Regions from separate parts of the Homo sapiens genome. Here all the other regions are linked to region 3. The links come from fine-mapping of genetic effects on gene expression. A gene starts in region 3. Each other region holds a variant in brackets. All regions are shown on one strand. Distances are from middle to middle.

Region 1 (8,356 bases), 58 kb before region 3:
AGTGGGGCTCAATTTGACAAATACTAAAATGTACATCTAGGCTTTTTTTTTTTTTTTCCTGGAACCGCAATATATATTTCCACAGAATTACAGTTTTTGTGCATTTCTGCACACCATGTAATCACATTTTTTAAGAGAAGAAAACTTTTGACCAATTTTCAAAAGAAAGCAAAGTTTTTTTTTTTTTTTTTTTTTTTTTTTTTTGAGACGGAGTCTCGCTCTGTCGCCCAGGCTGGAGTGCAGTGGCGCGATCTCGACTCACTGCAAGCTCCGCCTCCCGGGTTCACGCCATTCTCCTGCCTCAGCCTCCCGTGTAGCTGGGACTACAGGCGCCCGCCACCACGCCCGGCTAATTTTTTGTATTTTTAGTAGAGACGGGGTTTCACCGTGTTAGCCAAGATGGTCTCGATCTCCTGACCTCGTGATCCGCCCGCCTCGGCCTCCCAAAGTGCTGGGATTACAGGCGTGAGCCACCGCGCCCGGCCGCAAAGTTTTTAATTCACAAAGATTACTGCTTGTTGAATAGAATATAATGAAACAAAATATTAAGATGCAGATAGTGGGGATAAAATAAGCCCACTCCTGGGTGGGCGCCTGGTTCCTGCACAGCTGCCTCATGGTGTCCCTCAGCCCAATTTGTGCCTCAGCAACATGGCAGATATCACATGGCTTAGACCTTTTGTCATTAATGCATTATGACTGTTAAAACAACTGTCATGGACCTCTGTACTTTGTAATAAAAACTTTCTTAAAATTTTCAGGGAAAAGCAGTTATCTCAATTAACAAGATTTTTCAGTATCTAAGACTTAAAATGATAATGTAACTGTCCAATGCAGTTTAATCACCTTTTTATCTTAGAAGACATTTTATGATCTAATGTTACCCTTGGGCATGTGGCTATATATTATTCCAGAAGAAAAAAAAAATTACTGAGACTTTACTTCAAAATTTGTTAGACACACTTAACTGTGTTTTTTATCTTTTATTTTTTACTTTTATTTTTTTTTTTTTTGACATGGAGTCTCACTCTTTTGCCCAGGCTGGAGTGCAGTGGCACAGTCTTGGCTCACTGCAACCTCCTCCTCCTGGGTTCAGGCGATTCTCCTGCCTCAGCCTCCCAAGTAGCTGGGATTACAGGTGCCTGCCACCACACCCGGCTAATTTTTTGTATTTTTAGTAGACAGGGTTTCGCCATATTGGCCAGGCTGGTCTTGAACTCCTGGCCCCAAGTGATTCACCCACCTCTGCCTCCCAAAGTGCTGGGATTACAGGCGTGACCCACCGCACCCAGCCGGAACTGCCTTTTTAAAAAGAAACTTAAACGTGGCATTGCCTTACTTTAAGGGAGGAAAACATAGTCATTGGAGTGAAAAGACAAGATACCATGGTGCCTTGTTGCCAAGGCATCGTGGCCAACAACAGTCTGAGGGATAGATTAGAATAGTTGCTCTTAGGTGGCTTGAGTGCCTGCTACCTAATCCAGTCATGGGTGAGTCTAAATAAAATCAGCATTCTCTAGAAGAGAGCTGTCCAATAGAAATGTAATGCAAGCTGCAGATGCCATTCAACATCTACTAACCACATTGAACAAAGTAAAAAGAAACAGCTGAAATTGCTTTCAAGAATGTATTTGATCCAATATATCCAAAATATTATTTCAACCTGTAATAGTTTTAAGTTACTTAGTGTTCTTTTTTTTGTATGATACAAAGTCTTCAAAATTCAGTGTGGGTTTTTTTTTTTTGCTTTTTTTTTTGTTTGTTTGTTTTGTTTGTTTGAGACTGAGTCTCGCACTCTGTCGCCCACGCTGGAGTGCAGTGGTGCAATCTTGGCTCACTGCAACCTCTGCCTCCCAGTTTCAAGCGATTCTCATGCCTCACCCTCCCTAGTACTGGCATTACAGGCGTGCACCACCACACCCAGCTAATTTTTGTGTTTTTAGTAAAGATGGGGTTTTCCCATGTTGCCCAGGCTGGTCTCGAACTCCTGGGCTCAAGCGATCCACCCACCTTGGCCTCCCAAAATGCTGGGATTACAGGCATGAGCCACCGTGCCCAGCCTCAGTGTGTATTATATTTTAAGCATATCTCAATTCAGATTGGCCACATTTCAAGTTTTCAGTAGCTGTATGTGGCTCGTAATAACCGTATTGGATAGTTCATCTCTAGAACATCTAGAGAATGTGTGCCCATGATGTTGAGAAATGAGTTCCCTTGTGTCTGGTGTTTGATATTAAGTTATGGACGTTAAGAATGCCTGAATCTATTGCTGGCCAAGTAAGCCACTAACCTAGGTCATAAAGAGTTAGCTTTGGGACCATTTATTTCCATGATCAAAATAAATACATCTGGGTTTAACCTGAATCACCATTTAGTAACATAGTCATCAGTTTCAGTACCTTTGTCTTTTTCCAGGTAAAACTCTTTAGCCTCTTATCAAACATGTTATGCCACATCTAAATTCCATATTTTATGTAATATAAGGAAAAATAGTTTTATTTGTATGATTTATACTTCATGTGTTAGGAACCTGTGACTACATGTTCTGAACTGTTAGTAAGAAAAATGGTATTGGATACCTTACTCTTTAAGATTTTTAATTATTTTTGGTAAAACTGGGAAATAGCCGTCTGATTTGCATTTTATTTTCTTTTGTATTTTAAGGATATGGAATATTATCTTGTAAAATGGAAAGGATGGCCAGATTCTACAAATACTTGGGAACCTTTGCAAAATCTGAAGTGCCCGTTACTGCTTCAGCAATTCTCTAATGACAAGCATAATTATTTATCTCAGGTAAAGAAAGGCAAAGCAATAACTCCAAAAGACAATAACAAAACTTTGAAACCTGCCATTGCTGAGTACATTGTGAAGAAGGCTAAACAAAGGATAGCTCTGCAGAGATGGCAAGATGAACTCAACAGAAGAAAGAATCATAAAGGAATGATATTTGTTGAAAATACTGTTGATTTAGAGGGCCCACCTTCAGACTTCTATTACATTAACGAATACAAACCAGCTCCTGGAATCAGCTTAGTCAATGAAGCTACCTTTGGTTGTTCATGCACAGATTGCTTCTTTCAAAAATGTTGTCCTGCTGAAGCTGGAGTTCTTTTGGCTTATAATAAAAACCAACAAATTAAAATCCCACCTGGTACTCCCATCTATGAATGCAACTCAAGGTGTCAGTGTGGTCCTGATTGTCCCAATAGGATTGTACAAAAAGGCACACAGTATTCGCTTTGCATCTTTCGAACTAGCAATGGACGTGGCTGGGGTGTAAAGACCCTTGTGAAGATTAAAAGAATGAGTTTTGTCATGGAATATGTTGGAGAGGTATGTTTCATTTGCCACGTAGTAAATGATGGACATGCAAGGTTTATACTTTTGGAAAATTACCTTTTTATCTCTTTAAGAGATACTTGGTACATTTTGATATTTTCATTTGCAGATATGTAGAAATTTATTCAGATTTAGGAGAAGAGTTCACTGGCATATTTAGAAATAAAAAACTTTTATATGAATAAAAAATATACGTTAAAACAAATTGATATAGTCATCTTTCAACAAATACACATTCCTACTAGTCAAACCTAGGATTTGTAAAATTTAAAATATGACAACTGTTTTTACCCAAAAGTCCTAAGAAGAAACTCAGATGTAACACATGCTGCTTTGAAACTTGAAAGTTTTAATTTACTTCATCTATTTGACCAAATATGATTAAATGTAGTTGGCAGAACTCTATTTTGGATCAACATGAAAGATACTATATTTATGAGTTTTGTAAAATATACACAAGCATTTATTGCATCCATAATCTGTAACTTACTTTTGAACTGTGAAGACCATTCTCAAAACTACCATACAAATACTAGCAAATTTATTTGTATACAAATCATATATATGTATATATATATATAAATGTAAAAAGTATTTGCCGTGTGTCACATACTATTCTAAGCACTTGATGTATTAATTCACTAATCCTCTCCAAAACTCAGTGAGGTAGTACTGTTTCTTTTTTTTTTTTTTTTTTTTTTTTTTTTGAGAAGTAGTACTGTTATGTCCATTATTGTAGAGAAATTGAGTACCTTGCCCAAGGTCACACAGGTCACATAGTAATAAGAACCGAGATTCAAAGCTCTAAAATCAGTAGTCTTCACCATGGCACCACACTGCTTCAAACTGAAGGGTAGGTTGAGCTGTGACTAGAAAGACACAAGCATGGCTACATATCTGGAGTTGTCAACTCTGGATTTTTTAGTTGGAATTGGGTCACCTATAATTATCTGTATTCATCTATAATTCTGAAACTAAATTAGATGGCTGTTTTGATTCTTACACTTTTAGACAGTGGTAGATTATTATAAATTATTCAGTATACAAGATCTTGTATAATCAAATTACTCTTTTTGTTAACCAAAATTTTTTAAGTTGCATTCTTAATGAGTGCAGCAGCCAAATTTGGTTGGTAACATAAAGTACTTTAGACACTTTTGGTTTCTTAAGCCGAGCGTGTCATAAAACTTGTGTTCTTAAGAGCAGAACTGTAGATGACGATCTTAGACTTACAGAATTGCATGAAAATAACATATTCTACAAAAACAAAACCTTCCATTCCAAAGTTAACATAGCTTCTCCCCTGTATTTTTAACAATTTTCCATTTGTAACTGCATATATATAAGTTATAGGAAAAATGTGCCTGGATCATATTTAGAGCATATACTTGCAGATTTAGTCCTTAACATTCAGTTGTGTCCTGTAGAGAGCTATAGTTGTATAGCTTTTTGAACATCCTAATTATAATGAAAGTAATGCAGTGTTCCAATGTACTGCTCAAATCCTGTTTAAAAAGTCATAAATCAACCAGTTACAGTTAATCCCAGCACTTGGGGAGGTCAAGGCTGGAGGCTCACTTGAGCCCAGGAGTTCCAGACCAGTGTGGGCAACATAGTGAGACCCCACATCTCTATAAAAACTAAATCATTAGCTGGGCATGGCGGTATGCACCTGTGATCCAGCTAGTCAGGAGGCTGAGGCAGGAAGATCGCTTGATCCCAGGAGTTAAAGGATACAGGGAGTCATGATGGCACCACCGCATTCTAGCCTGAGTGACAGAGTGAGACCCTGTTTAAAAAAAAAAGGTCATCAGTCTTTTGCATTATCATTTTTCTTCCCCTCATTTTCCCACCTCTTTGCATCTGAGTCTTAGTTTGTGTGAATGTTTGCTTTGATGACACCTGAATTTCTTACTTTTTAAATATTTGTAGGTATTCGCATATTAGTAGATAGGTAGATGAATGCTTCTTTGGTTCAGTAGCTACGTAATATACTTACAGTTTTTTCTGTTTAGGTAATCACAAGTGAAGAAGCTGAAAGACGAGGACAGTTCTATGACAACAAGGGAATCACGTATCTCTTTGATCTGGACTATGAGTCTGATGAATTCACAGTGGATGCGGCTCGATA[C/T]GGCAATGTGTCTCATTTTGTGAATCACAGCGTAAGAAGACATACGTAAATTTTAGACACGACTAACAATTCAACCTAGTACTAGTTTCCATAGCTAAAGAATAATTCCCTTTAAACTACATATCCTTTTAACATTTCCAAAATATGTATTTTATAAGGAGGGCAGCTTCTGTTAAGTTATGGTATTATTGCTGTATTAGGAAAATTAAACATTGAGGTGCCTACCAAATATTAATAGGGTGTATTTTACAAGAGTCTTTACATATGTTACTTCATTTAAACTTTCTAGTAACTTTGTACGGTAGGTATTACTTTCATATTACAATGAGCAGAGCAATTAAGAGGTAAAATGTCCAAGAATTACACAGAACTGTATCTTAATGGAAGTTAACACGACTACATTTTAGGATGTACAACTGAAGGTAAATGTATTTTCTTAAAATGTAAACATGTTAACTTTTTATAAAATTTAAAGATTTGTAGAGTATTTATGTAGGGCTATTTTTCTAAATTATAAATTAGTATTCTTCCTTACCTTTTAATGTCTGAAAGCTCTTAGAATACAGCTGGCACTTAACTGCAGAATTCTGGACTCTAAATAATTTCCAAAAATTAGGGAAGTTAATAATTTTGGGTTACCTACTAAGTAGCAAGTGGACAGTAAAACATTAGGCTTGTTAGGGTGACATTATCTGCATTTTGTGGATAATAAGGACAGTGTGTGCCACAAAGTTATATAGCTGAACATATAAAGGAAGTAGACCATGTTAAACTTCTGATGGATTTCATAGTAAGAAATTGGTGTATGATTAGCAGAGAGCTTCTGGGCCCTTGTTTGTTGATTAAACATTGAAGAATTTTTTTCTTAATGATAAATTCGAGATACTCTCAAAATAGAGATATTCTATCCAGGGCCATCAAACAGTTTTGATTCCTTAGTATGACTCACTACATCTTTTTTCTTGCATATTCCGTAAGTTTACTGTAGTATTCTCAAAACATTGAAGAGTTTGGACCAAAAATTCAAGCAGTGAAACTCCATGCAGTGTAAAATTTGAGTTCTGTAGTGCAGATTTGATTTTTTAAACACAGTTGTTCTAGTTATTTTAAAGTGTATGCCTTACTGAAATAGTTACCAGTGAAATAATAATGTTATCTGGGATTTGTATTGAAATTCTCCAGGAAAAAAAAAAGTTGGGACTAGAGGAATAAGATTGGCAAGCATGTTACTAATTGTTGAAGCTGTATAGTGGATACATAGGGATTTCTTATTTTCTCTATTTTATACTTGTCTGAAGTTTTTATAAGGGAAAAAAATCTTTTTAAATGTGCATGCCTCAAAGACCTCTAAGCAATAAGCAACTTAATTTCCAGTGGAACTTAAACTAAATCTCTAGGAAAGTAAACATTTTATATGGCATGTAGAAGGGCTTGTTTACACCGTTTGTACTTAAATGGGTTCTAATGTTCCTTTTTAGTGTGACCCAAATCTTCAGGTGTTCAATGTTTTCATTGATAACCTCGATACTCGTCTTCCCCGAATAGCATTGTTTTCCACAAGAACCATAAATGCTGGAGAAGAGCTGACTTTTGATTATCAAATGAAAGGTATGCTTTTCAAGTACAGTTTCATTGGTGTCAGTTTCAATATGAAGAATCAAATCAGACTAGGAACAGACCTTAGATATTTGAACCAAACCTAATACTAAAGATGAAAAGTTGAGGCACTAAGTTTGTCATCCTAAGGTACAAAGCTAATCCAACAGCTAATACTAGAACCCAGGTCTGCCTGAGCTTCAGCTGAGGAATGGTTCTACATCGTAAATTTTCAGAACTTCCATTTTGGAAACTGATTTATTTATTATAGCATCTTAATACTGTACTACTTGTCTTTTTTTTTTTTTTTAAATTGTGGGCTAAGCATGCTGGCTCCTGCCTGTAATCCCAGCACTCTGGGCTTGAGCCCAGGAATTCAAGACCAGCCTGGGCAACATGGTGAAACTCTGTCTCTACAAAATATGAAAAAACTAGCCGGGCGTGGTGGCGTGTGCCTGTAGTCCCAGCTACTCGGGAGGCTGAGGTGGGAGGATGGCTTGAGACAGGGAGGTTGGGGCTACAGTTGAGCTGTGAATAGCACCACTGCACTCCAGCCTGGACGACAGAGACCCTGTCTGAAAAAAAAAACTATAAGCCTACATTTTTGAATTTTTACTGAGAGATGTATATTCAAAAGATTGAAAATATTTAAATCACATACAAATTTATTCTATTCCTACTTGAACCTGGCTTTTAAAAAGAACATTTAATTCTATTTGCTTTATTGTGACAATATAAATGTTTTCTTTCCTTTAAGAATGATGGCCTTTACATATTGTCATTGCTTAACCTCTTACATACTGTGCTTTTATATACGGTGTGAAATGAATGTGTATTAGATATTCCCAGTAAGTTTCATCATTTCAGAAATCCTTTCTGACAAATATGGGCTAATAACATAAAGTTTACCTATTATTAACCCACACCATCCTTTCAAGACAATTCATTATGATTTGACGCTGAATATTAACATTTATTTGTAAATATTTCAAAGGGAACTAACTACATTTCCTTGGGAGTTAACTTACTCTAAGGGTCTTGACCATGTAAGTACCCTCTATCACTGATAATAAAGCTAATATAATAGAAAATTTGAAATTTATTCTAAATTGTCTTAACTCTCTTTCTCCTATATTTCTTTTTCTGTGTCTTCAGGTTCTGGAGATATATCTTCAGATTCTATTGACCACAGCCCAGCCAAAAAGAGGGTCAGAACAGTATGTAAATGTGGAGCTGTGACTTGCAGAGGTTACCTCAACTGAACTTTTTCAGGAAATAGAGCTGATG
Region 2 (8,585 bases), 120 kb before region 3:
TGTCTCAAAAAAATATAGATAGATAGACCTTAATGATACGGATAAATGGCATGAGCTTTACAACATGGCCATGGTGAACAGCCAACATGCAGATGTAACTGACAATCTGACAATTTTAGGGAAAAAGGAATTGGCCCCAAATTGTCTTAAGTGATATAAAACAGTATATTGAAACAAGCCATATGTGTATGCCCAGGAAACACCATATTAATGTGATTAGAAGAAAATATAAATACTTTATTAATTATGTATAAATAATAATGTAAAATATTTTGATAAGTTTGATTAATTGTCTTGGTAAGAAATGGAAAGCCCACCCACTCTTAGGATGCTAAATTCTTATTGGGAATTCAGTTTCATAATTTCATTTAAGAAAACGTAGAATTGGGCTGGGCATGGTAGCTCATTCTTGTAATCCCAGCACTTTGGGAGGCTGAGGTGGGTGGATCACCTGAGGTCAGGAGTTCAAGACCACCCTGGCCAACATGGTGAATCCCTGTCTCTACTAAAAATACATAATTAGCAGGGTGTGGTGGTGCACACCCGTAATCCTAGCTACTCGGGAGGCTAAGGCACAAGAATGCTTTGAACCCAGGAGGCAGAGGTTGCAGTGAGCTGAGATGATGATACTGCACTCTAGCCTGGGCAACAGAGCAAGACTCTGTCTCAGAAAAAGAAAAAAGAAAACATAGAATTGGTTATCTGTGGTGTACTCAGAAAGTAAAGTAACACTGGAAATATTCTGGATGAAAACACGCAGAACTACATGTCACTGGAAGATGGATTTCTGCTTGCTGCGTGCTCTAAAATGGACATACTTGAGGCAAACATGTAAGTAGGAGGACTTCACGTCTAAGAAATGAAACTATTAGCAGTATTCTTCAAGCACATGGGGAAAATGAAAGGTGAAATTTACTATACCAGGCGGTTTTCTTTTCCTTTGGTGTCCAAGCAAAAACTGATCAATTCTTTCTCTATAGTGTCCAGCGAAAAGTTAACTCCTCTGTCTATCAGTGACTTGTAGAATCGGTTCAAGAATTCTTTACATACTGGAAGGAACAAATAAATATGTCTGCATGCACAACTTAACCACTACCACACCTATGCATATGACCCACTAACCACATTTAAAAGTCTATATGGGGCTGGGCATGGTGGCTTACCCCTGTAATCCTAGCACTTTGAGAGGCTGAGGTGGGCAGATCACAAGGTCAGGATATCGAGACCATCCCGGCCAACATGGTGAAATCCTCTCTCTACTAAAATACAAAAAATTAGCCAGGCATGGTGGCGCGTGCCTATAGTCCCAGCTACTCAGGAGGCTGAGGCAGGAGAATCACTTGAACCCAGCAGGTGGAGATTGCAGTGAGCCGAGATCTTACCACTGCACTCCAGCCTGGCGACAGAGCAAGACTCCATCTCACACACAAAAAAAGAAACGTCCATATGAGTCAATGCTTCATGACAGTGGATTCCAATGCTAAGTAAGAATGATTTGGGGGCCAGGCATGGTGGCTCACACCTGTAATCCCAGCACTTTGGGAGGCAGAAGCAGAAAGATCACTTGAGCCCAGGAGTTTGGAGCCAGTCTGGACCACATAGTGAGACCTTGTCTCTACTAAAAAAAAAACACAAAAAAACAAAAACAAAAAAACACCAGGCATGATGGTGAATGCCTGTCGTGTCAGCTACTCGAGAGGCTGAGGTGGGAGGGTCACTTAAGCCCGGCAGATGGAGGCTGCAGTGAGCTATGATCAAGCCACTGCACTGCAGCCTGGGTGACAGAGTGAGACCCTGTCTCAAGAAAATTAAAAATATAAATAAAAAGAATGATTTCAGGCCTGTTGCTATTAGTTTAGTATTGGGCCTAAATGCAGTGGACACATTGTAACAGCATATTGAATCAATCAATCATTGGAACGAAGTTCTACCTAAAATGATAACTTTTCCACAAAATTTGGCTAACCCTAAAATAAAATAGGCTATCATCTTGGGACAGCATAATTGTAAGCACAGAGAAAAACCTGAATAAGAATCCTGAATGAAGCCCCTTGGTGATCTGCATAAGTCTTTATTTCCATCGTTATGAGCCTAAAGTGAAATCAGGCTGGGCATAGTGGATCACACCTGTAATCCCAACACTTTGCAAGGCCAAGGCGAGAGGATCTCTTGAGGCCAGGAGTTTGAGACCTGCCTGGGCAACACAGTAAGACTCTGTCTCTGCACACACCTGTGGTCCCAGCTACTGAGGAGGCTAAAATGGGAGGCTTGTTAGGTCATTTCTTCTAGTTCCTTATATCTTGAAGATACTTTCAAGCTTGTTTTTTATATCTTTAAACACACTAAACTTAATTATGATCTGTGTGTGAAAATTTCAATATCTGAAGTCTTCAGAGTTTTTTTTGTTTGTTTGTTTGTTTTTTAAGACGAAGTCTCGCTCTGTTCACCCAGGCTTAAGTGCAATGGCGCAATCTCAACTCTCTGCAACCTCTGCCTCCCTGGCTCAAGTGATTCTCCTGCCTCAGCCCCCCAAGTAGCTGCGATTACAGGCGCTCGCCACCACACCCTGCTAATTTTTATATTTTCAGTAGATACGAGGTTTCACCATGTTGGCCAGGCTGGTCTCAAACTCCTGACCTCAAGTGATCTGCCCATCTCGGCCTCCCAAAGCGCTGGGATTACAGCCACTGCATCAGGCCCAGAGTACGTTTCTATTTGTTGTTGTTTCTATAGGTTCTTGTTCCTGGTGCCTCGTTTCTTTGTGTGCTTGCTTATTTTGCGCCACACGATACTCATACGTCTCAAAACTTATTTGTGAAGATTGTTTGAAGCCTGAGATGAAGGAGCATTATTTCCAGTAAGGATTTGTATTTGTATTTCTCAGGGACTAAGGGCAACTAGCCAGGCACTGCTTTAAACTAAATATATAGCTTGAAGTTTTTGGGCCCCGATGTGAATTTTGGCTGCAAATACAAGTGAGGGACGTTTTGTTGTTATCATTTCTCAGAGATATATATTTTTTCTTTTTTCTACTTTGCTCAGTGTCAAGGTAAATTTCCTTATAGTCCCCTATGGGTAGGGATGGGTTCGGTTTATGTTCTATGTTTCTTTAAACATAAAAAAACATAACTTCTATGCCTGATTATTCCAATACCTGAAGCCACTGCAGGGGTGTGCCTCTTCTGTTTTTTGTTCCAGCTGGCTCTCACTTATGTGCCCTTCTTCCCTAGGGGTTCATGACTTTTCTAAGTGGCAGCTCTATTTCTTAGAACTTTAACTGTATGAATTCTTTGAGGACTAGGTTGAATGTGGGTTCCTGTAAGTAAGACTCACATTTGCTGGCTGGGCACGGTGGCTTATGCCTGTAATCCCAGCACTTTGGGAGGCCAAGGTGAGTGGATCACCTGAGGTCAGGAGTTCGAGACCAGCCTGGCCAATATGATGAAACCCCGTCTCTACTAAAAATACAAAAATTAGCCAGGAGTGGTGGCAGGTGCCTGTAATCCCAGCTACTTGGGAGGCTGAGGCAGGAGAAATGCTTGAACCCGGGAGGCGGAGGTTGCAGTGAGCCGAGATCACACCATTATACTCCAGTCTGGGCGACAAGAGTGAAACTCCGTCTCAAAAAACAAAACAAGACAAAAACAAAAACAAGACTCACATTTGCTGATTCCTGAGGGTATGATCTACTTAAAATCACTTTCAACTAAATTATCAGTTCGAGATGTTTCAGATCATCCTAGTAGTGTGAATGGGGCCTTTGACCCCTACCTATGTGCACGAGCTTGTAATTATGAGTTATCAAGAAAGTTTTGTTTTTCCTTTTATCAGTAAAAATGTTCAAGTGAAACCATTTCTTTTAGTCTCTAAAGATGGAAATAGGTTGTAGTTACTTTCAGTTCACCCTTTATAATGAAGGGCTAGGTCTTTGGGGCCCTGAATTAGTTGGTAGAGGATCTGCTCTCACTCTCCTAACTTGGAAATGCCTGGGACTTGTGTTTATTTAGCCAAAACCATGAAAACTTCAGTTCAGATCACCTGGCTAACAAATGCTCCCAGGTAAAGCCAGCTTCAGTGCTCCCTTCAACCCCCTGGACTCCCACTTCCACTCTGTGGTTGGCTTCTGGGTATGCCTTCCCAACTCATACTTTACAATATTTTCACATTTTTATTTTATCCAGTATTTTCAGTTGCTTTTAGATGACTGGCCAATCATGTCATCTTTTAGAGCTTAAAGTCATATATATATATATATATACACACACATATATATACTGTATATACATATATATAAAATACATATATACACATATATAATACATATATACACACACACACACACACATATATATATATAT[A/T]TTTTTTTTCAAGATGGAGTCTCGCTCTGTTGCCTAGGCTAGAGTGCAGTGGTGTGATCTCGGCTCAATGCAACCTCCACCTTCTGAGGTTCAAGCAATTCTCCTGCCTCAGACTCCTGAGTAGCTGGGACTAATGGCGTGTGCCACCACACCCAGCTAAGTTTTTGTATTTTTAGTAGAGACAGGGTTTCACCATGTTGGCCAGGACGGTCTCGATCTCCTCACCTGGTGATCTGCCCACCTCGGCTTCCCAAAGTGCTGGGATTACAGGTGTGAGCCACCGTGCCTAGCCCATATATTTTTATTTCTAATGCTATCAACATGAACAGAATACTAAACATAATAGCCAGTTATTCATGTTTTTAACAAATATTTACTAAGCGACTAGTAAGTGCAAAACAGTATTCTAGGTTCCTAAGATTCAGTAATGAAGAAAACAAAGAACTTGCCCTTGAGAGTTACATCCGATAGAAGTAAAGGTATACGTAGCAAAGAAGAAAAATAAACATGGTAAGGAGGATGGAGGGTGACAAGGTAATAGTACGATTCTTAATGGATTGGTTAGGAAAGATCTCTTAGATAAAGTGATATTCAAGCAGACACCTGAAGGAAGTGGAAGAACAATTTAAGTGGATGACTTGAGGAAGAACTCCGCAGGCAGAAGGAACAGCAAGTACCAAGGCTCAAATGCAGGAGTGTCCTTGGTGGCTTCAAGGAACAGCCAGAAGGCCAGTGTGGCTAAAGTAGAGGGAGCAAGAGGGAGGTGTGTAGCAAATGAGATCAAATAGGCAGCAGCATGCTGGGGCATCCAGGGCCTTTCAAGCTTGGTAAGGTCTCTGGATGTCACTCTGAGAAGGGAAGCCATTTAAGGTTTTGAGTAGAGAAGAGTTATGGTCCGACATGATTCATAAAGGATGTCTCTGAAGGCTGTCTGAAGAATGGATTACAAGGAAGCAGAAAAGAAAGCAGGGAGACCAGCTGACCAGTTTAGAGGTTCTCAAAATAGTTGCATCTCTTAGACCAGGGCAGTAGCTACAGCAGTCATGAGAAGTGGTTACACTCTGGACCTATCTTGAAGGAAGAGCCAAAAGAATTTACTAATAAGCCAGATGTAATGTGTCAGAGTTGGGGAGAGAGAGAGGAATCAAAGATAATCCCAATAATTTTGGCCAAGAAACTGGAACCGTGGAGTTGCCATCTGCTGAAATGAGGAAGACTGCAGGAGAAGCAGTTTATGGTGACAAGCAGGAATCTAATCTTTCTTTTTTTGCTTTTTTTTTTTTTTTTTTTTTTTTTGAGACAGAATCTCGCTGTGTTGCCCAGGCTGGAGTGCAGCGGTGCCATTTCGGCTCACTGCAACCTCCAACTCCTGGATTGAAGTGATTCTTGTGCCTCAGCCTCCTGAGTAGCTGGGATTACAGGCGCATGTCACCACACCTAGCTAATTTTTGTATTTTTAGTAGAGATGGGGTTTCGTTATGTTTGCCAGGCTGGTCTCTAACTCCTGACCTTAGGTGATCTGCCTGCCTCAGCCTCCCAAAGTGCTGGATTACAGGCATGAGCCACCATGCCTGGCCAGAATCCAGTCTTGACATATGAAGTTCAAGATGCTTCTAGACGTCTGTGATGGTTAATTTTATGTAGCAATGATGAAATTAACACTTAAATTGATGAACTCTGGGTAAGGCAGATTGGCCTCCATAATGTGGGTGGGCCTTACCTAACTACTTGAGGGCCTGCACAGAACAAAATAGACCAGCCTTCCTGACGAAGAGGGAATTCTCCAGCAGACTCCCTTTAGACTTCCTTCGTACCACAGGCTCTCCTGGGTCTCCAGCCTGCTTGCCCACACTGCAGATTTTGGACTTCTCAGCCTTCACAATCTTGTGAGCCAATTCCTTATAATAAATCTCTTTTTACATAGATAAATATTACAGATATTAAGAAGATATATAGATATAGATTATATGTTCTGTTTGGTCCTATTGGTTTTATTTCTCTGGAGAACCTTGACTAATATAACATCCAACTGGAAACAGTGAGAAGGCAGCTAGATATAGAAATGTGAAGATCAGGTATAAGATCTAGGATGACTATATAAATCTGGAAGCCATCAACATTCAAATGGTGTTTTTGAGATGAGAACACAAAGTAAGGAGAGACGGAAAAGAGACACAGTCCTGGGTCTCAGCCTTGTGAAATCCCAATGTTTAGCAATTGGGAAGATGGAAAACAACCAGAAAAAGACGGAAAGGAGCAGCCAGTGAAGTAGGATAAGAACAAAGACTGAGTGTTATTCCAAAAGGCAAGTGAACACAGTGTTAAAAGGAATGTGTAATGATCTGCTATATTACACGTGGAAAATGAGATCCCTCTCAACATGTATTTTGCTGAGTTTAATTAGCAAATATATCCAGTATGCAAAGCAGAAACCTGCTGTAATGATTAATGCTACAAGTCAGCAGAAACTATCATCAGGCCAGGCACGGGAGTTCACACTTGTAATCCCAGCACTTTAGGAGGCCAAGGCTGGCGGATCGCTTGAGCTCAGGGGTTCAAGACCAGCCTCGGCAACATAGTGAAACTTCATCTCTATTAAAAATACAAAAAATTTGCTGGGTGTAATGACAAGCACCTGTAGTCCAGCTACTCAGGAGGCTGAGGAGGGAGGATCACTTGAGCCTGGAAGACGGAAGTTGCAGTGAGCTGAGACTGTTCCACTGTACTCCAACCTGGGTGACAGAGTGAGGCTCTGTCTCAAAAAAAAAAAGAAAAAAGAAAAAGAAACTATCATCAAAGTCTCCTAGGAGCCTCTAATTCTTGTCTCCTACAAAAGAAACCCCCAGTATTCCAGTGCCTCATCACTCTTGTGGTATTTCCCACAGTATACCTTCATATGATTTCTATACCTCAACTATCACTCTGCCAATGTATCATCTAGGTGATGAAAGTTAGGAATACTAACTTGTCCTTTTCAAGATCTACATTTGACTCACTAAAATATACCCAAAATTTTATCACAGCATATATGCATACATTTCTTCAACAAACTGAGCGCCTACCATATGCCATGCACTATGGTAGCTGCTGGACATGAGGTGGTGAGAAACACTGCCTTGACTTTCAGAGGAGACCAAAACAATATGAGAAGTGTATCAGATACTGTGGGAAAACAAAGGAGCGGCACCTGGAGGAAACTGGGAAACTGCTGAAAGATACTAAATAAGGAAGTAATATGATAGCCCTGCCAGGGGACTAGACAGGAGGGAGACAGGTAGCAGGAAGAATGCTATTTTGACAATGCGGAGGGGAAAACTGCTGAAGTTCTGTAAGGAAGTCCTAGACTTGAGTAAGGAGAAAGGAGCAGGACCAGTCAGGAGGTAGACTCAACGATGTAGTGATTGGTTGGGGGATAAGGGGGAAAGAGAAGTCTAGAATCTAGGCTAGGTGACCAGGTAGTTGTCCCATGCTGTCACCGTAAGCATGACAGTAACAGGTTTAGGGGAGTGAGAAGGGAAGGAGATGATGACTTTGGTTTTTTGACTGTGTTGATGTTGATGTACATCATATCTAAGAGGGCATGTTCACTAGTCAATTGGATGCAAGGTCTGAGACTCTAGAAAGGTCAGTGGATATAAGGTTAGAGATTTATTAGACTGGAGGTAGGTTGGTTTGGGTTGCCAAGAAGAGTGTGTAGACTGAGAAGAGAGAAGAGAAGAGAGCAGAACCCTGGAAAATTCTAAGCCATGGCTAGAGGATCAGAAGCCCACAAAGACACACTGGACAAGTGGGCATAGAGACAGGAAGGAGAAAAGCAGTATCATGACCATGAAGAGAAGGCAGTCTCTGAAAGGGAAAGATGTCAATGGTGTCACACACCACAAAGAAGTCAAGGTAAGAAAGGAAACTCATTTTCTGGACTTACATGAAGAGAATAACCTCACCATAAATGCCCTAACAAATTAGTAGCTTCTTAAGTTTTCTGGGATGTCTTTATTGCTAAAATAACCTCAGATAGCCATACTTCTTTTATTTATATTGTGCTTTTATGTTTATTAAAGATAGTTTTATAAGTGAATCTATAATTATTTTAAAATAAAAAGTTATTTAAAATAGTCCCATAATATAATCCTTTAAAAGAGATTTGGAAATATTTATGTTTTTCCAGTAAACCTCACATTACCTAATAATAGGACTCACAGACTTGAATATCTACAGGGGCCAGGC
Region 3 (8,513 bases):
GACAGCCGCCTTCTCACTATGCACTCACATGGCTTTCCTAGGCCCCGCATGAGGACAGAGCGCCCTCTCTCTTCCTTCTCTTGTAAGGAAACTAATCCTATCAGAGTAGGACACCACGGTAGGACCCCACTTAAACTTATTTTCCTCCTAAAAGCCCCAGCCCCAAATACAGTCGCTTTGGGGGTTAGGGCTTCAACATATGAATTTTGTGGAGATAGTCCATATCATAATCAAAGAAGCCTGTGTCCCAAAAAGGTGAAAAGCCAACAGAAGGCAATGTGAGAAACCTCCAAAAGCAGAAGTTGTGTTTTCACCCTTGATGAGTTTATGTCCTGGTTGACTAAGCAGATCCACATGTGGTCAGAGAACAGAAAAAGTTGTTATAGACTGTTCAACAGTAGGGAAGAGTCCATTTCTGGCTTAATGCACAAACTTATGATGATTTCAAATTCCTTTAGATTTATTATTTCTCCAAACTCAGCCATCCTAAACACGAAGTGCAAGTTTCGGAAGTATACTTTAATCCTGGCTAGCCCATTTTGAGTTCAGAGACTCCAGTGCGGCTCTACACAAAAAGTAAAAATAGGCATATCCTCGTCCAGCAGTGGATTCTCAATGAAAAACAAAACCAGAAATGTGTCAGGCACAGCGGCTCACACCTGTAATCCTAACACTTTGGGAGGCTGAGGTGGGTGGATCTACCTGAGGCCAGGAGTTCGAGACCAGCCTGGCCAACATGGTGAAACATCATCTCTACTAAAAACACAAAAATTACCTGGGTGTGGTGGTGCGTGCCTGTAACTCCAGCTACTTGGGAGGCTGAGGCACGAGAATCGCTTGAACCCAGGAGGCGGAGGTTGCAGTGAACAGAGATCACGCCACTGCACTCCAGCCTGGTGATGGAGACTCCACCTCAAAATAATAATAAAAATACAAACATTAGCTAGGCATGGTGGCTGACTCCTGTAGTCCCAACTACTTGAGCAGAGAGCATGTGCCACACTGTACTCCAGCCTGGGCGACAAAGGGAGACCCTGTCTCCAAAAAAAAGAAAAAGAAGAAGGAGATGCTCAAAGACGTGCACGATGCGAATACGGCAACGCACGAGAAGAGGTCCAGATTTTCCCATTAAAGAGAAATCACTGGTGGCTTTGTGGAAAAAAAAAGCAGAGACATTTCGCAGAAGCAGTAACTTCAACGATTTATAGTCCAAGTGATTGATTCCACACACAAAACAACATAGCTGGCCTTCACACCAACCCTGTGAGGAAAGGCTGTGTTTGGATACCTGTAATTTACTTTAAAATACTTTCCTACTGCGCAGGTACAGATAGGTTTGTTACGCTGATTGACTCCACAGGGTAGTGGGAGCTTCCTGCTCCAGCACGCTGCAAGGCCACACAGCAGGAGGCAGCAACTCCAGTGATTCCGTTTATCATTTTCTCCAATTAACACTAATGGCTGGGCGAATTAGCACAATGAGCATTAAAACTGTTTTCCCTGGTAAAAGTTAGTGACTTGTTAGCACAATAGAAGTGAAAATGAACAATGGTTGTCAAGTTAGCGGTATTTAAACTCTGGAACTTAGCTCCAATCTCTGCTTGGAGCATCAGCGACACTCTAACCTTAATCCCTAAATCGGCCCAGCTGTGAAAGGATCCAGCTGTGAAATCATAGTAGCTTTTCAGGTTGCCTGATACCATCTAGAAGGGAAACATCCCTCCAACCTAAACTAGAACGAAACTTTCATATTGGATACGGACAGAACACCCAAAGGCCAAGGAGCTTGCACTTCGTGGAGCTCTTAGGCGGGCTGTTCCACAGTTGTGTGTGTGTCTGAGTCTCCTGCTTGCTGACCAATGTTTGAGGGTGTGGTCAAATGGATCTGAAACTTGTTTTCTTCATACATGGTAGCGAGGCTCTGAGGGAAGTACTAACCCTCGCCAATCTCTGATCATCGGCCACCAGCAAAGCTACCAAGAGAAACTACTAGCAGTGCTTGACCAAGCCGGCCCGGGGCGCAACTGGCAGGCGCCGTTACGCCGCGTTGACCACATCCGAAAATAGATGAAGCCTTTGAGAGGCTGAAGAGCCCGACTGGGACAAGGCGTGTGCTGGCCGCCCCCTCGCTGGCTTCCCACAGGCTGCAGCTCCTTGCTCCAGGGCCGGCCCCCTCCTGTCCTCTCTCCAGCCCCCAGCGCCCCGGGAGCGGGCGACGCGCAGCCCTCACTCACCTTTGTGGCAGTGGGACAGGAAGTAGGCGCGGGCCCTCAGGTTCTCCCTATCGAAGCGGTCTATGGAGATAGTTGGATACTCGGCCATCTGCCCCTCGAAAGAACTCATAGCGCCGCCGATCCCAGAGTCCGGGACCCCAAAACCGCAGCTGAAGCCAAGGCCAGCCCTGACCGCGCCGCCACTTCCGGGAAGCCGCGCGCTGCCTCGCCATTGGGCGGCCGAACGCAGCCACGTCCAATCAGAGGAGTCCGGAGACCGGGGGCAAAGTCAAGGAGCATCCGGTCGGGTTCTAGGCGCCCGCTGCTTGGGTTTAAATCACCCGCGCTTCGCTGCACGCGATGGGCCCTGAGCCCTGCCCAGTGCAAGGCTCATTCCCGCCCAACAAACACAGGTGTTGCTCTGGTAAGGCGTTGCCCATGTCTGTGGAGGTGCAGTCGCGGGAAGGGAAATCGAAACTCCCAGAGCAGGTGGCCCCAGCCGACGAGGTGAGTGGGCTGCGGAACTGCGCTTAGAAATCATTCTTCGTTCCGCTTCCTGCTTGTCTGCTGCTAGCCTGAAACCCGAGCTCAGTTCCCCGCCCTCTCTCTTCTGTTCCCAATTTCTAACCTTGTGGGATTACCGTGAGGGTTGTATGAGAAAGTTTGTATCTGACTCATGGTAGATTCAGGAACTATTAATTCCCTCTTCCGTTTATATAATCTACAAACTGAATAAATCATCTCTGCGTGATCTTGGGGCAAATAAGATCCCAATAATGCCTTCGCTGCTGGCCTCTCCCCTGGGCCCCCACCTTTTTGAGCTATACTTTTAGGAAGTTAGAATGATGTACTTAAAAAAAGAAAAATGGCAGGAAAGGTCTAAAATTTTTTAACAACCAAAGCAACTTTATGAAAAGGTTTGTTAAACCTTTTATTGTATTTCCTTTATTGTATTACAATAAACCAAATAATCACCATGACATTTATTGTGCTCCTTCCTATCAAATCTCCTTAGTATAATTAAACACAAACAACCCAGAACACTTTCGCTTTATTTTATTTATTTATTCAGTTGGGGTCTAGTTCTATCGCCCAGGCTGGAGTGCAGTGGCGTGATTTCGGCTCTCTGCAACCTCCGCCTCCCGGGTTCAGGCGATTCTCCTGCCTCAGCCTCCAGAGTAGCTGGGACTACAGGCACGCGCCGCCACGCCTGGCTCATTTTTATATTTTTAGCAGAGACGGGGTTTCACCACGTTGACCAGGCTGGTCTCGAGCTCCTGGCCTCATGCGATCCGCTCGCCTCGGCCTCCCAAAGTGCTGGGTGAGCCATTGTACCTGGCTTTCCAGGCCTCCATAACACTTGAAGTCCCACTTTGTGCACAGCACTGTGACAAACCTTCGGGTAGCATTCAATCTATCTGGCGACAACATGTTTGCAGAATATGGCAAATAAATGCTTCCACAGAGACGCAAGGTAACGTGAGAACAAATCCAGGAACAAAGATTTCTGACCAGGGAAATCAGGAATCAGAATGCCATCCCAGCCCACCTCAGTGGCTCATGCCTGTAATCCCAGCACTTTGGAGGGCTGAGGCAGGTGATCACCTGAGGTCAGGAGTTCAGGACCAGCCTGGACAACATGGTGAAACCCCATCTCTACTAAAAATACAAAAATCGGCCGGGCATGGTGGCACACATCTCCAGCTACTCGGGAGGCCGAGGCAGGAGAATCACTTGAACCTGGGAGGCGGAGGTTGCAGTGAGCCTAGATCATGCCAGTTCACTCCAGCCTGGGCAACAGAGAGAGACTCTGTCTCAAAAAAACAAAACAAAACAGAATGACATCCCTAGTGAATGTCAGCTTGTGCCTGTAGCCATGATACTCAGAGTTCTATTCAAATACAGATTTCCATGAAATCTTGAGGAGGGGGAGGAGGGGTGACATGGAAAGGTATACACAACATAATCACTAATTGAGGTAAAATATCCTGCTAGTATACTACTGGCAACACCTTTGATGGTTTGTCTTAGAACACATGGGAACAACTGCCCTGGCAGGGTTATGGAGACCTAACAACAAATTCTGCTGTGAGTCTAGTGTCCGAAGAATCTCACGGTAGAGCTCCAGGAAAGGCAGGTCAAGTTAATGCTCGTGATCTTATGTATTTGCTCACTTATTTATCTCCTCCTCTTTCCACAATGGATACAGTACAAACAAAGGGAAATAGAGTCAGGACAAAGAGAAAGACAGGATAGAAAATAGGCAAGATAGGTAAGCATAGCCCAGACCAAACCTAGTGAATCAGAAACTCTGGGAGAGTGGGGCCTGGCAGTTTGCAGCTTAACACACCTTCTAGGTGATTCTGATGGACCCTAAAGTTTGAGAACCACTGGATTCGAGTCTAAAGAACATTCAGGGCCAGTGTGGTGGCTCATGCCTATAATCCCAACACTTTGGGAGGCCGACGCAGGTGGATCACCCGAGGTCAGGAGTTCGAGACCAGCCTGACCAACATGGGGAAACCCCGTCTCTACTAAAAATAAAAAAAAAAATAGCCAGGCATGGAGTCAGGGGCCTGTAATCCCAGCTACTCAGGAGGCTGAGGCAGGAGAATTGCTTGTACCCAGGATGCGGAAATTGCACTGAGCCGAGATTGGACCATGGCACTCCAGCCTGGGCAACAAGAGCGAAACTCCATCTCGAAAGCAAAACAAAACAAAAAAACACAACACTCAAGAAGTCTGGGGCAGGAATTCAGGTAGGAAGCTGCTGCAATACTGCAGGAAATGTGATGGTGAAGCTTAATTCATTCAGCAAATCATTCACTGACCATCTACTGTGTATCAGACACTATTTTAGACACTAAAGATACAGTAGTGAGCAAAGTAGACAAAAAATGTGGCCCATCCTGGTGGCTCCTGCCTGTAATCTCAGCACTTTGGGAGGCCAAGGCAGGTGGATCACTTGAGGCCAGGAGTTAAAGACCAACATGACAAAACCCCAGCTCTACTAAAGATGCAAAAAGAATTAGCCGGGTGTGGTGGTACACCTACAATAACAACTACTTGGGAGCTGAGGCACAAGAATCACTTGAACCTGGAGGCAGAGATTGCAGTGAGCCAAGATGGCACCACTGCACTCCAGTCTAGACGACAAAAGAGACCCTGTCTCAAAAAAATAAAACTAAAAAAGCAGACAAAAATCCCTGTGGACGTGGGAGTGTACCTTCTAATGCAAGTAATTACTGTCTACCATTTATGTAGTTCCAGATGTTATCAGTGTTTTATACTCATTATTTCATCCTCACATCCTACCTGCCCATCAGATAGGTACACTTTCTGTCCTCATTTGCCAGTTGAGGATACGGAGGTTAAGTAGCTTGTCCAGGGTCATGTTGATAGTAAGTAGAGCTCAGATTTAAATCCAAGAAGGCCACCACACTTTTAGACACTGTGCTCTCTGACAACACACTGCTAGCCACCGTGCCATGCTGCCTCCACAGCATCGGAAGGGCAGTGATGAAATATACTGATTCAAAATATATCCCTTTAGCACCTACTGTGTGCTAGGCAGTGTTAGGCCAGTGTGGCTGCAGCAGAATGATCCGGGGCTACAGAGGAAGGAGGGAGGGTGTTGTGAGCAAATCTTACAGGGCTTTGCTCACCATGTATAGCCTCTGGTTTTCACTCTCCATAAGATGGGAAGCCATTGCAGGGTTGTGAGCAGAGGACTGACATAATTTGACTTAGGTTTTTTTGTTTTGTTTTCTTTGAGACGGAGTCTCCCTCTATGCCCAGGCTGGAGTGCAGTGACGCAATCTCGGCTCACTGCCACCTCCACCTCCACCTCCACCTCCTGGGTTCAAGCGATTCTCCTGCCTCAGCCTCCCGAGTAGCTGGGACTACAGGTGCACGCCACCACTCCCAGCTAGTTCTTTTGTATTTTTAGTAGAGAAAGGGTTTCACCATATTGGCCAGGCTGGTCTCGAACTCCTGACCTCGTGATCTGCCCACCTCAGCCTCCCAAAGTGCTGGGATTACAGGTGTGAGCCACCGCGCCCGGCCTTGACTTAGGTTTTAAACAGATTGCATTGACTGTTGTGTTGACAACAGACTACAGAGGGGGCATAGAGAGCTGTTGGGAACGGTTGTAATTACCAGAAAAAAGAAAAATTATGATGGCTTGAGTAGAAGCTATAAAGTCAGCAGGTTGCATTGATGGATATGGAAAGAGAGGGCTCTAGGCCACATCTACTAAAAGACATGAAGAAGGAGCAGGGTTTTTGTTTTTGTTTTGGCAGGGAGGTGTTTGGGGAGGTTGTTTTGTACAATCAAGTGGATGTTGAATATACATTGATATACAAATCTAAAGTTCAGAGAAAGACCGGGCTGAAGAGAGAAATTTGGGAGTTGTAAGTAAATAGTTTTTTGTTTTTAGTTTTACTAAGTATTGCCTTTGTTTTAGTATGACTCGTTTATTTAGAAGTTTATATAATTTAATTTGTGATATGTCTTGTGTTTTTGTTTTGTTTGGGGCAGGTGCCCGAGGCCCTTGTCATCTTCATTGACTCCAGCTCATGGCTTGTATTTAACAACGAGCTCAGAAAAATTCCTAAAAATTTAATTACTGAGTCTCCAGAGCTCTAATGAGCTGGCTCCAGCACACAATTGCTCCTTTCTTTCATTCAACAATTTGACAAGTCCTGATGGCTCTACATTCAAAACATGTAAATTGGCCGGGCGCGGTGGCTCACGCCTGTAATCCCAGCTCTTTGGGAGGCCGAGGCGGGTGGATGACGAGGTCAGGAGATCGAGATCATCCTGGCTAACACGGTGAAACCCCGTCTCTACTAAAAATACAAAAAATTAGCCAGGCGTGGTGGTGGGTGCCTGTAGTCCCAGCTACTCGGGAGGCTGAGGCAGGAGAATGGCGTGAACCCGGGAGGCGGAGCTTGCAGTGAGCCGAGATAGCACCACTGCACTCCAGCCTGGGCGACGGAGCGAGACTCCGTCTAAAAAAAAACAAAAACAAAAAAACAAAAAACCGTATATCTTGAATCTGATCACTTTTCGCTTAGATAGTACTGTAATATAGTAATAGATAATGCTAGAAAAAATAATTAAAGCTATAGATATCATCTATTGTAGGTTTACTGATTGTCAGGCACTATGGCGACTCTCTGGAATGGTTCATTCCTCGCAAATGAATAGATAGGAGATATCTACTATCAGGAACTACAAACACAGTCTCCGTGCTGTGATCCGCTTTCACAGGGAATTTTGTCTGGGATTCAAGTAGCGGCAAGTAACCCTTTTTCGCCCTCCATCTCTGCTCAGGGGTGAGCCCTGGCAGCGCTCCTACCTGGGACCTACATTGGCTTAGTAAGATGGGCCGGCGCCCACCCCAGCCCTCGCGCATGCGCATAAAAGCCCACTCCCGGGGGCGGGGCCTGAGCTAGCTGGGCGGGGCCTGAAGGAGCCGGGAGCTCCTGCAGCTTCATCGCGTTACTAAGAGACGCGAGGGTCGCGAAGGGCACAACACTTGGCCTCTCGCTGGCCCTGCTCGCGGATCCCGAGTAGAGAACGCAAGCACCCACGCCCGCCTGCAAGCTCCCGGGCGCCCCCGGCCTCTCCTGCTCGGCGGAACGAGGATAACCCAGTAGAGCCGGACCCAGGGGTGGGTGGATGCGTCGCTGGAGGCGAGGGCCCTGCCCGCCAACCCCTGCGCCCCGGCCGTAGCCCCACCCCGGAAGTTCTTGCCCCGCCTTCTCGGCTCCGCAGTTCTCTGCTGTCTCCTGAGGTTTGCCAGGGAGATCCCGTGGTTTTCATGTCTCTTCCGTGATTTTTAGGGAAGAGGGTCACTATTTGGCCCTTCCAGAATCTCAGGGTCCGGTTCTCCCGGAAGTTTCCGGGCCGCCCCGGACCCCATTGGCTTTAGGGGCCGCGTCTCCGAGGGCTCCGATTTGGGCCCTAGATTTTGGAATACTGTGTTTTGTCCGTCCCAGCCTTCACCAGGCGGATTTCATCTCCCACACAGTTAGTGATTTATGGCAGAAAGGAAGCTGGAGGGATGGGGACTGCAGGTTAGCTGTGAGGGCCGGAAGGGAGCGGTTTTGTGCTGCACACAGGCAGGTCAGCACTCCCAGAGCAGGGACCGCCGGGCGTGCTTTCGGAACCGCTTTTGTCTTTCAAATGAACGCCCAGCGACAGCAGACGGGAGTTCCAGGACCTTAGAGACCGGCTAATGCTTCTCTTTAAGTTAGGAAACAGGCGCAGGCGTGTTCATGGCCTTGCCTAAGG
Region 4 (5,000 bases), 44 kb before region 3:
CCTACTGAATCCCTGAGGAAGATAGGACCAAATAATTTGATTTTTAAGTTCTACAGCTGATATCTGTTCAGCCAGGTTTGCAAAGCCTGTGTGCTCTGCAAATAGTAGATGCTCAGTGGGTTGGCTGACTTAGGAAAATTAAATTGCTTTTTATTAAGGTTTTTCTTCTGTGAGCATCTTATTGACATGTTTTATGCACAAGGTTGCAACAGGTTAAATCAACTTTAAAGCAAAATACTGAATAATCAACGTGTCAAGAACTTAAAATTCAAAACATTAATAAGCATGCTGTGTCAACAAATGTTCTTAAAATGAAAAAAGCCTTACTTAGAAAAACAAATATTTTCCCATCTTGTAACAGTATCTAACCTAGGAAGAAAGTTAAATGCACCCAAGACTACTGTGTATGGCAACTTCTTGTTCTACTGCTGAATCTGGTGTTATAATAATCCACTTAAATGATGTGGCTAAACACTGCATTTTTAAGACACTAATATAAAGGACCATAGAGACCATTATCCAGCTCCCATGTTCCCCGTGTGAAGCTAGGCCCAGAGAAAAGGGTGTGCCAATACACACGACCCAACCTCATTCTTAAAGGTTCAGTGTTATGACTTGTAACTGAACTTAGGGCTTAAGGTCACTAAGATATCTAACGACTGTATTTGGAATCATCCTAGACTGCAGAATGTAGATTTTAAGCCAAAGATCATATGTATGTTTTAGGTCCCTCACTACTATGCCAAAGTTGTTTTTTGAGTTTTATACAGTCACAGTTCAGCCTCTACCTCTCAGGCTCAGGAGATCCACCCCCATGCCCAGCTAATTTTTTTTAGACAGTGTTTCCCCTTGTTGCCCAGGTTGGTTTTGAACTCCTGCACTCAGGCAATCCACCCCCTCGGCCTCCCAAATTGCTGGAATTAGAGGCATGAGCCACTTTGCCTAGCCCAAAATTACCTTTTTATGAAATATTTTTGTATGATCTCTAAGTTGAACAGTTCTGCATTCCAAATCAGTGACTATGCCTGATCCCAAAAGACATTTATCAAAAAGGAGTGTGGATTGGGTAGATGCATAAAAGGCACAAAAGATTAAAGGAAGAAAGGACTTTTGCTTCCAGGTAAGATGGAGTAACGGACTAGATTTAACCTCCCACTTGAAATAACGAAAAATCAGAAACTATCTCTCAAGAAAATGGACATCGAGCAATTAAGGACAATGACATGAGAAATAAGACACAGATGAGTCCTATGATTGCCTGACTCCCTGCTTCATAACAGATTCCAGTCAGGGAGGGAACATCTGGATAGAGCCCATGGACATCCTTGATGTGAGGTGGAAGTGGAACATTGAAGAAATAAATGTACCTGGAGTTTACAGAGCAGAAGACCAGAGAGGAGAGTGCTGCACAGAAACTCTGAAAAGCTGCAGAGGCGTCCCCACCACGTGTTCAGTGCACTAAGCAGCATGTGCTTGTAAGGAAACTACCTGCAGCCAGGCAACGAATCACTCAAACAAAAGGAAAGAAAGTGCCCAGAACTCACCGTGCCAGGAACAGTGTCTTGTCCTGGTCCCAACAGCCAGAGTGGAAAACCTCATGATCCATGGGCATTTGTAAAAGAACCAAGAAGAGCCTTGCCTCAGTAGTGGGGAAAATTAACCATATACTAAATGCTACTCTGTTCCTGCATAACAAAGGTAAAAGACACGAAAAGATCAAACTATAAACATGCTAACCACATGCCAGAACAAAGCTCAAGAATGTTTTTAGAAATCCCAAAATTATGCAGGACCTAAAAAGGTAAAATTCAGAATGTATGGCATTCAAAAACAAATTATCAGAAATTCAAGAAGCAGGAAGATACAGTCAAAACTGACTGTAAAATTATGTAACATGGGAGTCAATTTTCATGATCTTGGATCAAATAGTTTCTTAGATATGACACCAAAGCATATGCAATAAAAGAAAAAAATAGACAAATTTAACTTAAAACCTTTACGCTTCAAGACACCATCAAGAAGGTGAAAAGACAAGTCTGAGAAAATATTTCCTAATCATGTCAGATAAAGGACTGATACCAGACTTTAACTCTTACAACTCAATACAAAGGTCAATAATCCAGTTGAAATGGGGGCAAAAGATCAGAATAGACATTTCACTGAAGAAGTTACATAAATGGCCAATAAGCACATGAAAGAAAGCTCAACATTAGTCATTAGAGAAATGCAAATCAAAACTGCAGGGTACCACCATACACTAGGATGGCTATACTAAAAAAGACGGAAGTGTTGGCTAATATGTGAAGGAACTGGAATCTTTACATATTGCCGGAGAGAATGTAAAATGTATTCAGTGTGGGAATGTTTGGCAGTTCCTTGGAGTGTTAAAACAGATTGACCATATGTTATGAACTGAACGCTTCCTGTCAAAATTCATATGTGGAAGCCCTAAAGCCAGTGTGGCTGTTATCTAGAGATGGACCTCTAGGGAAATAATTAAACCATCATAAGGCTGGAGACTTGATCTGCCTAAGTGCTAGAATTACAGGCTTGAGCCACTGTGCCCAGCCTAATTTTTACTTTTTTTTTAAGCAGAGACAAGTTTTCACCATGTTGGCCAGGTTGGTCTTGAACTCCTGATCTCAGGTGATCCATCCGCCT[C/T]GGCCTCCCAAAGTGCTGGGATTATAGGCGTGAGCCACTATGCCTGGCCTCCTGTTTAAGCTACCTAGTATGTGTTATTTTCTTAGGGCAGCCCAAGCCAACTATATGACTCCAAAATTCTACCCCCCACAAGAAATAAAACCCAACAGAAAGATACGTAAAGACTTGTACTCAAATTTTCATAGCATTATTATTTAAAAAGGAGAAGCAACCCAGATGTCCATCAGCTGGTGAGTGGATAAATAAAATGTTGTATGCCTGTACAATTGAATATTGGTTGGCAATAAAAAGGTATGAAATACTGATATATGCCACAGTATAGATGTACCTTGAAAAGATAATGCGAAATAAAAGCCAGGCACAAAATAGCACATGGTGTATAATTTCTTTTTTTTCTTTTTGAGACAGAGTCTCGCTCTGTCGCCCACACTGGAGTGCAGTGGTGTGATCTCACTGCAAGCTCTGCCTCCTGGGTTCACGCCATTCTGCCTCCGCTGCCCTAATAGCTGGGACTACAGGTGCCCGCCACCACACCTGGCTAATTTTTTGTGTTTTTAGTAGAGACGGGGTTTCACCGTGTTAGCCAGGATGGTCTCGATCTCTCTGACCACATGATCCACCCGCCTTGGCCTCCCAAAGTGCTGGGATTACAGGCGTGAGCCACTGTGCCTGGCCAATAGCTGGGACTACAGGCGCCCGCCACCACACCTGGCTAATTTTTTGTGTTTTTAGTAGAGACGGGGTTTCACCGTGTTAGCCAGGATGGTCTCGATCTCTCTGACCTCATGATCCACCTGCCTTGGCCTCCCAAAGTGCTGGGATTACAGGCGCGAGCCACTGTGCCTGGCCATATGAGTTCTCTTATATGAAGTGTCCAGAAAACACAAATCTATAGAGACAAACCATAGATTAGTTGCGGCCTAAGGCCGGGAATAGTAATGGGGAGTGACTGGAAATAGACATAAAGTTTCTTTTTTGGGTAACAAAAAATGTTCCAAAATTAGATAGTGGGGATGATTGTACAATTCTGTTATACTAACAGTCGTGGAATTGTTCACCTATAATGGATGAATTTATGGTGTATCAATTATACTTCAATAAAGCTTAAAAAATAATTTTGTATTGTGGAGTTTATAAAGTTAATAACAGAGAATGTATGACAATAACAGCACAGACTGGGAGAAGAGGAATGGAAATATACTGCTGGAACATTCCTATACCATATTTGGAGTAATATATCATTTATCTTTTCACTCTGATATGTTAAAGATGTATACGGTCAGTCCTCTGTATCCACAGGTTCCACATCTGTAGATTTGACTGACCACAGATCAAACATATTTGGAAAAAAGCAAAAATTAAAATACAAAAAACACAAAAATTGATACAGTATAACAACTAGTTACCAAGCATTTACACTGTATTAGGTATAAGTAATCCAGAGATGATTTTAAGTATATGGGAGGATATGTGTAGGTTATATGCAAATGTAACACCATTTAATATGACTTGAGCATCTGCAGATTTTGGTACTCTTGGGGGGGTCCTGGAACCAATCCCCCAAGGATACTAAGGGATGACTGCATTATAAGCCACTAAAATAAGAAATCAGTGAGTTACACAGCCAATAACCCAACAAGAGATTAAACAGAATCAGTCAGTAATTACTTGACCTGAAAGAAGGCCAAAAAAGAATAAAGAACAAATGGAACAAATAGCAAGAGGATAAACTTAAACCTGACCATATCAATGGGTACCATTAAACTAAGTGGACTAAGCACTGCAATTAAAAGCCAGAAAATACCAGGTTGGCCATAAAAACATCCAACAACATACTGCTTACAAGAAACCCACTTTAAATATAAAGACTAGTTAAAAATACAGAGATGGAAAAAGATACATCAAGCCAATATTAATGAGAAGAAATTCAAATGGCTCTAGTAGATTGTAGAACTAAGAATGTTACCAGGGGATAGACTCATTTCCTAAAGATAAAGGTATCAATCCCTCAAGAGGATATAAGAATCTTAAACTTGTGTATACCTATTAATAGTGCCTCAAATAGATGAAGCAAATGCCAATAGAACTAATCAAGGCAAAATAGGCAAGTCCACAATTACAACTGGAGATTGCAACACCCCTCTCTGGCAATAATTGATAGAACAAGAATGTAGAAGACCTGAACAACATTGTCAACTAACTTAGCCTAGTTGACATTTATAGAACACTTCATCCAACAACAGTAGTACATATATTTCTTTGAAGTACACATTAAACATTTACCAGGTTTAATGTGTAAATTGGTCCACAATTGATGGTCCGTAAATATTCTGGACCAT

Direction of the effects. Alleles are on the strand shown, and positions count from the first base shown. SD is a standard deviation of normalised expression in the study named. Not every link is listed here.
As copies of T replace C in region 1, the expression in thyroid of the gene that starts at base 2,429 in region 3 goes down (small effect, 0.32 SD a copy in GTEx).
For the expression in subcutaneous fat of the gene that starts at base 2,429 in region 3, allele T in region 2 goes with a higher level than allele A (moderate effect, 0.66 SD a copy in FUSION).

The links. PIP is the estimated chance that this variant, and not a neighbour inherited with it, causes the effect.
Region 1: its variant is the best candidate, but not a certain one, in a credible set for the expression of DCLRE1C in thyroid (GTEx, PIP 0.61).
Region 2: its variant is the best candidate, but not a certain one, in a credible set for the expression of DCLRE1C in subcutaneous fat (FUSION, PIP 0.87).
Region 4: its variant is the best candidate, but not a certain one, in a credible set for the expression of DCLRE1C in whole blood (TOPMed, PIP 0.57).

What each region holds. Positions count from the first base shown.
Region 1 is chr10:14,894,182-14,902,537 of GRCh38, forward strand. It overlaps SUV39H2 (SUV39H2 histone lysine methyltransferase), which reads left to right. Exons shown (of 6, transcript NM_001193424.2): 3 at 2,665-3,336; 4 at 5,358-5,504; 5 at 6,952-7,081; 6 at 8,225-8,356. The coding sequence ends at 8,331. It also overlaps a transcript of DCLRE1C not described here. Among named protein-coding and RNA genes, the nearest start is that of SUV39H2, 19 kb to the left of the region's middle. The variant C/T (reference allele first, on the strand shown) is at 5,474.
Region 2 is chr10:14,827,224-14,835,808 of GRCh38, forward strand. It overlaps CDNF (cerebral dopamine neurotrophic factor), which reads right to left. Exons shown (of 4, transcript NM_001029954.3): 2 at 922-1,049. Among named protein-coding and RNA genes, the nearest start is that of CDNF, 6.5 kb to the right of the region's middle. The variant A/T (reference allele first, on the strand shown) is at 4,359.
Region 3 is chr10:14,951,668-14,960,180 of GRCh38, forward strand. DCLRE1C (DNA cross-link repair 1C) reads right to left here and starts at 2,429. Exons shown (of 14, transcript NM_001033855.3): 1 at 2,235-2,429. The coding sequence starts at 2,343. It overlaps MEIG1 (meiosis/spermiogenesis associated 1), which reads left to right and starts at 7,721. Exons shown (of 3, transcript NM_001080836.3): 1 at 7,721-7,890. RefSeq lists enhancers at 1,066-1,794, 1,795-2,522 and silencers at 2,541-2,620, 7,944-7,993.
Region 4 is chr10:14,909,646-14,914,645 of GRCh38, forward strand. All of the region lies in intron 13 of DCLRE1C (DNA cross-link repair 1C), which reads right to left. Among named protein-coding and RNA genes, the nearest start is that of SUV39H2, 33 kb to the left of the region's middle. The variant C/T (reference allele first, on the strand shown) is at 2,662.